Regions from separate parts of the Homo sapiens genome. Here region 2 is linked to region 1. Evidence: fine-mapped expression QTL. A gene starts in region 1. The other region holds a variant in brackets. All regions are shown on one strand. Distances are from middle to middle. Region 1 holds the start of RGS5 (regulator of G protein signaling 5). Region 2 has its middle 38 kb from the start of RGS5.

What was found. PIP is the estimated chance that this variant, and not a neighbour inherited with it, causes the effect.
Region 2: its variant is the best candidate, but not a certain one, in a credible set for the expression of RGS5 in whole blood (TOPMed, PIP 0.88).

Annotation. Positions count from the first base shown.
Region 1 is chr1:163,200,550-163,205,938 of GRCh38, reverse strand. It overlaps RGS5 (regulator of G protein signaling 5), which reads left to right and starts at 3,023. Exons shown (of 5, transcript NM_003617.4): 1 at 3,023-3,147. The coding sequence starts at 3,104. All of the region lies in intron 2 of RGS5-AS1 (RGS5 antisense RNA 1), which reads right to left. RefSeq lists an enhancer at 2,294-2,959.
Region 2 is chr1:163,238,171-163,243,559 of GRCh38, reverse strand. It overlaps a transcript of RGS5 not described here and the pseudogene TRNT1P1. Among named protein-coding and RNA genes, the nearest start is that of RGS5, 38 kb to the right of the region's middle. The variant A/G (reference allele first, on the strand shown) is at 2,495.

The DNA.
Region 1 (5,389 bases):
ATAGACGTCTGTTCACCATGGATCACATAGTCCAAGAGGTCCCCAAATTAGAAGTGATAAAATGCATCTCAATAAATATATTGCTAATAATAGTTAAAATAAAGACACTTACACATGATTTAAGGAAATGAATTAGAGATGAATCAGAGCAGTTGTGTGGGCAGGAGATCCTTTTCATCTGATGAAAATGTTCAATGTCTCTCACTGCTTCCACTTGCACAGCTAACTCCTTCCTTCTGTAGAACTGTAATATCTAGTGCTTTGGAGCCCAAACCACTGTGGCATCCTCCAGGGCAGATGGATATCTCTTTGAAGCACCCCCCTGAATTCCCTCCCCTGTTTCATTAGGTACCACTCCTACTCACCTCTTTTCACATTCCATGAAGAAGTGGTTGAAATCACTCAGAATATGATGGCTTGTTTCTCTTTTTCTTTGCTATTACAGATTTATACCTTTTTCATATATTTACTGTCATTTCTGAGGGATTCTCAGGAGGGAAAGGAGATTTTAAAATAGTTCAATTTATTTTTTCAGACTTCAAATTTATTTTACGTAGTAGGCTCTCTCCTTTTTTTTTTTTTTTTTTTTTTTTACTGTGGTTAAAAAACACGTAACACAAACTATTCTCTTCACAGATTTTTAAGTGTACGGTACAGTATAGCTAACTATGGGCACAATGTTGTATAGCAGATCCCTAGAAATTTTTCATTTTGCATAACTGAAACTTTATACCTATTGAAACTTTATTGAATAGGAACTCCTCCATTTCTCCCATTTCTAACCTCTAGCAATCACTATTTTACTTTCTGCCTCTAGAGCACACTCTTTTACATACTTTCTGGCTATCCCATCCTTACAAAGTTTTAAAAACAAATAAGTGTTGGATTTAACATTATTTCTATTGAATTTTACATTTTGGGTTCTAGTCCATCTTTTAGTAAATTGAGATAATTTTTATTCTTGAATAGTCCATCACATGAACTCCTTTGGGACAGTCAGAAACATGCTTTGATTTTTAGCCCTCGCCAAGACATCACCCTCCATTGCTCTACGTTAAACTTGGGGTTTTTCTTTTCATATTATTATCTCCTCAAGGCCCCTTGGTATCAAATAATGATTTAGACTCTTGTCCCAAGGAGTCTCTTCTACTTGTTTTATATTCCCTTTATTAGATTTAATAGTCAACAACAGTGTCCACATGTCTCAAAAATGATAATTAATTGATTTGCTGATGTTTACTCAGTCAATAGATGGCGGAACTTGGACAGTTTGTTTAACTCATTCAGTATTTACAGATGTCTATGTGCCTGACATTGTGCTTAGTGTTTGGAAGGCTGAGGCAGGAGGATTGCTTGAAGCAAAGAGTTCAAGACCAGCCTGGACACCAAAACTAGACCCTGTGTATTCAAAAAATTTAAAAACTAGCTAGGCATGGTAGCAAGAGTCTTTAGTCCCAGTTACTTAGGAGGCTAAGGTGGGAGGATCGCTTGTGCCCAGGAGTTTGATGATGCAGTGAGCTATAATCATGCCACTTCACTCCAGTCTCTGGTCTGGGTAACAGAGCTAGACTCTGTCTCAAAAACGTGTGTGTCTGTGTGTGTGTGTGTGTGTGTGTGTGTGTGTGTGTGGTTTAGAGCCACAGCTTTCAAACTTTTTTGATTATGATCCATAGTAAGAAATATAGTTTACCTGATGACCCTGTGCACACTTACATATTGATAATTAAAGTCAAAATTTCAGAAAACAATACTTTTTACATCCGATGCACTTGGATATTTGTCTATTCTATTTATTACATTAAAAACATCAGGTCATAATGCACTGCATTGACTTTACAAGCCAGTAACAGGGGTTGATCAACCATTGCCTAAAAAGGGTATATAAAGAGGGAGTCATTTAAAACAACTAATTTCAGATAACAGAGAAAATTATGAGAGTACTGTTCAATTCCAAATTCAGAGCTTTTCTTACGGATTATTCAGTGCCACTTTTTTTAAAGCTTGGACTCATGCCTACCTTTTAGGCATTTATTTACAGATTAACTTATCAGCACCTTGGGCCCCGACAAGATAAGACACAATTCAGGTAAATTTTGGTAAATATTCCTTGAGTGATAGGAAGCAGGAAAAGTTTGAAGGAGAAGGAAAGACAAGCCTAGGCAAGGATGGCTATGGTGGGGAGGTACAAAGAATTACAAAGCATTAGTCATCCAAGCAAAGTATAATCAGAAGACCACTGACAGAATTAACAGAGTTCAGAGATAATATCATTATACTCAATCCCTACTAAGATTTTGGTGTTTGGTCTCCTAGATCACTTTTTTAGTACCTTCACAGACATATGGATTCATAAAGAATATATAGTAATTATTCATATTTGTTTTGATTTATATAAACAGTAATCTTGTCTCTCAGCTCCAGAAAACCTTGCCTGGTGCTTCCTGAAGGCTCACAACATCCCAGCCCGGCCTCCATCACTTACTTATAATGTGTTTTGGGGTCTTGAGGGCAGGGAGCTTTCTCTTTCTTCTCTGAATTCCTAGCATCCAGCTGAGTGCCTGGCACTTGGTAAGTATTCACATACACATTCCTTGAATTCCCTAGATTTCAGTTTCCTTCACTGTGAAACAAAGTGGGCTAAACGATCTCCAGGAGCCCTTACAGTCCTAAGAATCTATGACTTTGACCGATCTGAAGTGGTCCAAGACACTTTGCTTCACAGGAAGCTCACATCTTCCTTGTGATTGGCCTGAGATTAGGAGTTCAAACAACCAATGACCTGTGCACAGTTTAGGGCCTAACCCTGCCCTGGCCGGTTAGCAAGAGAGTGTTGTGATAAGAGCAGATGAAAGCCTTATGCCACAGTAGTGCCTGTAGCAGAGAAAGGATTCCCTCCTCCACCTCAGGGCCCACTGCTGCTGCTCTCCAGCCTGCAGTTTCCTCTAAGGCTCTGGATTGGCTGGAAGAGCAACAGAGGGCTGGGAAAGAGCTTCTATATATACCTCAGGAGGAAAGGCATCCCAGACAGTTTTGAAGTTTTCAAAGACTGGCTCTGCTGTTAAGAAGTTGTACTTAAAGCGGAGGAGCTAAGCCACCTGCCAAAATGTGCAAAGGACTTGCAGCTTTGCCCCACTCATGCCTGGAAAGGTGAGAACCAAGTTATTTTTGTTTAAGAGATGCAGATATGGAGAATCTTTACTCAAGGGAGGCTGCCCAGTGGTAACAGAGGTATTGTAGTTTATGGCTAAGCTGAGGTGAAACAGGTGCTTGACTGTAGATTGGGTATTATCTCTTCTCTGTAAACAATATAGAGATTTTGAAAGATCCAAGCTAGGAGATTAATACAATATAGAGTATTTCATACATCATTTAATATCCAGAACATCATTTCCTTCAAGGAGATGCCTATTCTATAAGTCCTTATTTAGAGTAAAAACTGTATGGTTAAGGATATAGATTCCAACATTAAACTGTCTAGATTAGAACCCTGGCTCTACTACTTACTATTTGTGTAAGTACTATTTGGGCAATTTATTTAACCTCTATGTAGCTCAGTTTCCTTATCTGTAAAATGGAGATACCGAGAGTTCTCTACCTCACAGGCTGGTTATGAGGACTGAATGAATTAATATATATGAAGCACTCAGAACCATGTCTGGCACCTAGTAGACTGTATAAATGTTAATTTTTATTAATGTACAGGGACTGGGAGAGGGAGGCAAGTTTGCAGTGAGGAAGAGGAAATTTCCCATTGTTCTTTGTTCTCTGACCTCATTAGATAGAAGTAACTGGATGGCTAGACAGAGAAAAAGCCCTTGGGACACAGGGGTTATTTATTAGCTAGCATTCTTTTTCAGACAAATGCATCAAAATCTTTGAGGCTCCCTGGTTGTCCGTAGGCTGGACAATATTCTGGAGAGAATCCTAGGTATCTAGGCTAAGCAAATAGAAGAACAAATATCTTACTTGTTAGAAAACTTAACCCAACCATCCTCTCTGATGGAGAGAAGTAGGGATGTTTCTCCTTTTATTGAGAATGGATTTGATTAAATTGGGTTTGATCCCTCGTTATTTAAAGTAAATAAAGAAGATCCTTGCACAGATGTTCAGCCCTAAAGGCATTAGCAGTGTTTGTCTCGGAAGATTTTATTGTTTAAAGGGCCATCTATGACTTCTGTCTCTTACAAGTTCAGGTCTTCTTTTTGATGCCTTCCACTCTAGAAATAACCTAAAAATAATTTTTAAGGAGATAACATTGTAGCATATAATTTTTTCTCCCAACAATACTATCTAGTAACTGAATATGAAACCTCCAGGGAGACTTACTCTCTGAATTATGGCTTCCAAACTTTTTTTTATTATGATCCATAGTAAGAAATATAGTTTACCTAATGACCTTGTGCATACTTACATATTGATAATTAAATAAAAGCATAGAATATTATTATTGTTTTTTAAATTTACATAAAAGAAACTTGTAGCTGTTAAGTTGTAGAAGTTAGATTGTAAATAAGGGATCAATATTGTCTATTGTACCAACCCTGGGGAAGAGGATAGGTTTTAAAGGTGGATACTATTTATTGCTATTAGCCTGTTCTTTCCTCTTACCTAGTATATAGAAAGCCTAAGAAATAGGGAAAGTTTTCTGTGCCTTTCCAGAAACGCACAGAAAACTTGAATATGGGACAATGTATAATTATTTCCTTTGCCATTTTTGCAACTATGAGAATTGCAACTTGACTTTAATGGATGCTTTTAGCATACTTATTGTTTGAAATTGTGTACTCTTATGTAGTGAATAAATCTTATTAATTGGCAAACAATTGACTTTAGAATGATTGTAACATCAGTTTGCCAAGCATTTTGTGATTCTATGACACATTGCTTGGCATTTGGTGAGAAATCAATAAAATTTCTGTTGAAAATTTGCCATGTTAATTATTTTGCTCTATGTTTTCTCATAAGTATGCATAATATTCACTGAGATATATGGATGGAACATTTCTTTCAATGATTCCTATTACTGTATTATATCTGATTCACTAGCAACATTAATATTGGATCACTTTATTTTTTGATGCACAGTAAATTCTTATGCACCAGGATATAACTAATGTTCATGTAGAATATTGAAGAGTGGTGAGTGGTAAAGGAGTGAGCTTATTTTCCCCATAGGTTGACTGAGTCTTTTATTTATTGGGATGTGGTAGAATACGCAATTATTGTGAGCTATTACATATTGTTTCATAATCTGTTCTCATCGTAAATAGGGTCATTGTAATTTCTAATTACCATGCTGCCTGAGAAGAATGTTTTGGAGAAATGGAATTGTGGAGCTGTGAAGCTGTTAGTACTTACCCATGGAAAGGGTCTAACACTGTCTATTCTA
Region 2 (5,389 bases), 38 kb before region 1:
TTCTCCTGCCTCAGCCTCCCGAGTAGCTGGGACTACAGGCGCCCGCCACCAAGCCCGGCTAATTTTTTGTATTTTTAGTAGAGACAGGGTTTCACTGTGTTAGCCAGGATGGTCTCGATCTCCTGATCTCGTGATCCACCCCGCTCGGCCTCCCAGAGTGCTGGGATTACAGATGTGAGCCACCGCGCCCGGCCTGTCATCTAGGTTTTAAGCCCTGCATGCATTAAGTATTTGTTCTAATGCTCTCCCTCCCCTTTACTCCCAACCCCTGACGGGTCCCAGTGTGTGATGTTCCCCTCCCTGTGTCCGTGTGTTCTCACTGTTCATCTCCCACTTATGAGTGAGAACATGCGGTGTTTGGTTTTCTGTTCCTGTGTTAGTTTGCTGAGGATGATGGTTTCCAGCTTCATCCATGTCCCTGCAAAGGACATGAACTCATTCATTTTTATGGCTACATAGTATTCCATAGTGTATATGCACCACATTTTCTTTATCCAGTCTATCATTGATGGGCAGTAAATGCCTCCTTCTATGTATAAAGACACCTATACAAATGTATCTTTGAACTTCTGAGTGTAGAATGTTTGCAAACACATAGTAAAACTATTACCACTCACGGTGAGTTGCAGTTATAGAAACTCCTTTTATTCTCTCTTCCCCACAGTCTAACGAATACTGCTTTGCAGAAGTAACTTTATTTTAAACAGATCTGATCATGTCACTACTGCCCTCAGAAAACGTTAGAGGTTCCCTATAGAAAATGTAATGAAGCCTAAATTCCTCAGCCCTCTGTCAACATTTCCCCTGCTGAACTTTCCGATCCTATATTTCATCACATCTTCCCTCCAATTCTAAGCTCTTCTCATAGTAGGCTACCATCATTCCCACCAATATACACACAATTTCCTGACTGTGCACCTTTTTTATGCTGTCCCTTCTGCCTGACATTCAATACTTGTCCTAAGTCTTAAACATCTTTTAAGCCCCAGATGAAAACACTTAAGAACAGAATCTGCCTTATTTTCTCATTGAATATTACATTTGATTATGGTGTGTTTCAAAGTTTGCCTTAGAGCATAATACTCATTTGTGTATGCTTCTATCTTATCTCACAACTCTCTTCCACCTGTGCTCCTTTCAAGCATGAGAACACCTGGTTTATTTGGTATTTACAGTTTCTTGCATAATGCTTAACACATGCTCAGAAAATGTTGGTTAACTTGAAGCAAATATTCACCAATGTTATTTATTTTTATAACTACTTCATTCCACCAGTGCAAAGAATGTACCTATGCTATGAAATGGCCAAAATGTAAATATTTTTCTGACATATTTAAAAAATATGCCATGTTTGATCCATTATCTCTCTATCCTCAAGGAGCCACTAACTCAGATGTTTACGTCAAAACTTTTATAGATCTCATCTATAAGACATGAATGAAAAATTTTAAAAACAAGTTATTATTTTCAAGAAAGATCTTTCTATAAAATGAAGAGGTTTAATTCAAGGTCTCACTTCCTTTATTCCAGTGCTAGCTGTGAAATGTGAAGAAGTAGCCTGAGGTGCTTGAGATTAATACTCTACGGACAATTAATCTAGTTCAATCTTGAGCATAGAATACTTAATACAAGTACTGTACTTATGTAGCCATTCATTTTCCTAACAAAGACTGATTATATCCCCAGGAAGTCAACCACAGCTCTCCATCACTTACAGCCACTGGCCAACACTTCGTCTCCAGTGAAAATATTGTGTCTTTTTCTATTTTAAATATTTTTATCTTATTTTTATACACGAATATCTGTGTATGTCACTGTTCTCTATCTTAAACTAAACATTTAAGAATGGAATGGCCATACCAAAGTCTGGTCAGCCTGATCATTTCAGTCATTTTAATTTAAAGAATGAATTGGATCAGCAACTTAATGATCTGAATTAAGCTGGTTTGGAAATCAGATAATGTGAGAATAAACGACCGTGGGTTGCATAAGTGTGATCCATACCTATCTGGAAGGAAACCGTAAACCAGAATAACCATAGTCTGAAACATGGGGTGGAAAAACAATTTTATCACAAGAAAATATTTTACTCCAAGTTTCTTCAGGTAGGGGAGGCCCTTCTAGAGAGAGACAAAATGCAACTATACATAACAAGAGTTTAGAGCAATGGAAGAGAATCTCCCAGCTATGTTCAGACCAGAAGATAATATATTTCAAATAAGCCACAGAGGTCTTCATTCATTCATTTAACCAGACCTGCTCTGTGCCAAGCACCATTTTAAGAACTGGGGATACAGTTAAGAACAACAACAACAACAATCTGCCATTATTAAACTTACATTCTAATCCAAGAAGAAAATAAATAATCAAATGAACACATAATACAATATCAGTTATTATAGAAGAAAAGTAAAGTAGGGTAAATACATCTAGCCTTTGGGGATAGGTCAGATAACAGAATTTCAGAGAGAGTGGTCAGGGGTCTCTTACCTGA[A/G]GACAAGTTAGCAGAAACCCAAAGGAAGCAAGGAAGCAAGCCATGAAGAGATCTTGGCAAGAGTGTTTCAGGCAAAGAGAACAAGTACAAAGACTGGGTGAGAGTAGTTGGCGGGTTTGAGGAACAACCAACAAAGTCATGGTGCCTGGGGCTATAGGCGTGTGCCATCACACGCCTTAGATACATTTTGACAAGTATATTCACCCAGGTAACCATGACCTCAAACAAGATACAGAGTATTTCTATTTTGGCCTGGTGCAGTGGCTCACACCTGTAACCTCAGCACTTTGAAAGGCAGAGGCTGGAGGATCACTTGAGTCCAGAAGTTCAAGATCAGCCTGGGCAGCATAGCAAGACTCTGTCTCAACAAAACGTTTAAAAATTAGCCAGGTGCTGTGGCATGCACCTGTGGTCCCAGCTACTTGAGAGACTAAGGTGGGAGGATCACTTGAGCCCTAGAGTTTGAGGCTGCAGTGAGCTGTGATCACAACTCTGCAGCCTGGGTGAGAGAGTGAAACCCTCCATCTCTCTCTTAAAAAATTTTTTTTCCAATTATCCCTAAGAGTTCCTTCATTTCCACTTCCAGTCAATCTCCACCCTGCCTCCTGATGCATATGGTCTAGTTTTTTTTTTTTTCCCCACCATGAATTAGTTCCACCCATTCTAGAACTTCATATGAATGAAACCATAGAGTATACATTCTTTTGGTAAGGCTTTGTTTGTTTACTGTGTTTTTGAGACTTATTTATGTTTTTGCATACACTATTAGTCTATTCTTTTTTTTAACTGCTGATTAGTTAATATTCCAATGTATGACCATTCCGTACTTATTTGTCTATTTTTCTGTTGGAATTCATTTGAATGGATTCTAATTTCTGACTATAATGAATAAAGATATTATTTTATATAACTCACTGTGTTGATATATCTTTTTATTTCTTTTGGTAAATACTTAGAGTGGAATTGCTGAGGCATAGGGCAGGTGTATTTTTTCCTTTTAATGAAAAAAAAAAACCCTGCTAAACAGTTTTCTAAAGTAGTTGTACCTTTTTTCAAGTTCTTTTGAGGCACTCATTTATTTATTTTGGAATTCAGATAAGAATGAACACATCATAGACAGTCATTGTACAAAGTAATCCAGTTATCTCAATTGAAATTAATAAACGTTTTTGCTTCCAGATAGTTAACACTTTTTTCAGATCAATCTTAGTGCCATGTTATGCAAAAACTAAATTTTAAAAAACGTCTACATAGATTAAGATTGTAGAAGCCAATTATGCTTTTCTCAGTTGGAACTATTTCAAAATAACTGTTTCAGCAATATAAATCAGATCAAGAGGAGGTGAATTTCAGTTTACTTCCTGAAATATAATTCACAAAATAAGACCTTTATCTTTAAGAGGTCCTTTAAGCTGGCTTTTATTCTGCTGTGATTTCCAAAATCTCACTAACAGGGAGAAGAAAAAACTAGCCTTATTTAAAATGTTCTGCCTTTTAATGGACACCAGTTTTAGGTCTTCTTTATGCCATTTAGAAGTGAATCTTTTTCCATTTGGTAACCCTTTTTTTTTTTTTTTTAAGAGACGGATTCTTGCTCTGTCACCCAGGCTGGAGTGCAGTGGTGCAATCTTGGCTCACTGCAACCTCCGCCTCCCAGGTTCTAGAAATTCTCCTGCCTCAGCCTCCTGAGCAGCTAGGACTACAGGCACAGGCCACCACGCCTGGCTAATGTTTTTTTTTTTTTTGGATTTTAGTAGGGATAGGGTTTCACTGTGTTGCCCAGGCTGGTCTCGAACTCCTGAGCTCAGGCGATCCACCCACCTTGGGCTCCCAAAGTGCTAGGATTACAGGCATGAGCCACCGTGCCCAGCCGGAAACCACTTTTTTCCCACTGTTCTCCCAGCTGTTGTAATAGAGCCCCAATTTCTTTCCCTGAAGAGATCCCCACTTTCCTGATGCCATGACAGTTACAGGAAATGGGATTCACCGTTGCTGCATTTCCTTTCAGAGACAGTGCTCTCCTTGGTACCGCAGTAGCTCACATACATGAGTAGTTGCATCATGTTCCCTGGAACCTATAATGAAGTCTTGATAGAGTTTCAATGGTTCTGAACTATCTGTTGCTTTAATTAAATCTTTCCTATTTTTAAACATAAATAATCCAAGACTTTTCTTTTTTTGTGCAGTCTTCGACCTCAAATCCACTTTTGCAACATCATCCTATCACTTGAATAATGAGGCAAAAAGAGTCATTGACTTTGGTGAAAAACCTTCAACATTTTTACTGACCTTATTAAACTCTTCTAAACTTTAATTAGCAGATAAACCTATGTAAGGAGCCACATCAAGATCATGGATAAGGGGAATCAAATGATTTACATGGTTACCAACAAAAATTTTTTCAGTTCCACCCAAATCCTCATTCCTGATATTCCACCCAAGCGTTTTGCATTTTCTGCAGTTTTTACAAAGCTTTAGGACCATGGTCACCAGGTTGCTCTACAATTGTCCCATAAAAGTGGAGGAAGGTCTAGCTAAGTTGGGAAGAATATTAAGAGGAAAGTTCAAACTGTGCTAAGTGGAAGCTCATGAGTTTCTTATTTTAATTTAGCAATCAACACTGAGAGTTTCTGCAACTCCTGGAGCATTTTGGAAATTTGAACTTGAATATTGCAGCAATTTTCATTTTTAGTTAAAAGAAAACATTTGGATTTTGTTCTAATTTATCCTGTTCAGATTGTGGCAATTAATATGATTTTGACACTGAATTCTTTAAGGTGTTTGGACCTTTCCAAATAATGTTATTTGCAGTTCCTGTTATTATTTGCAAGGATATATGTAGATAATTATAAGATTTAATTAGTAAGAGTATTTTATCAGCCAGTCGTGATCTGT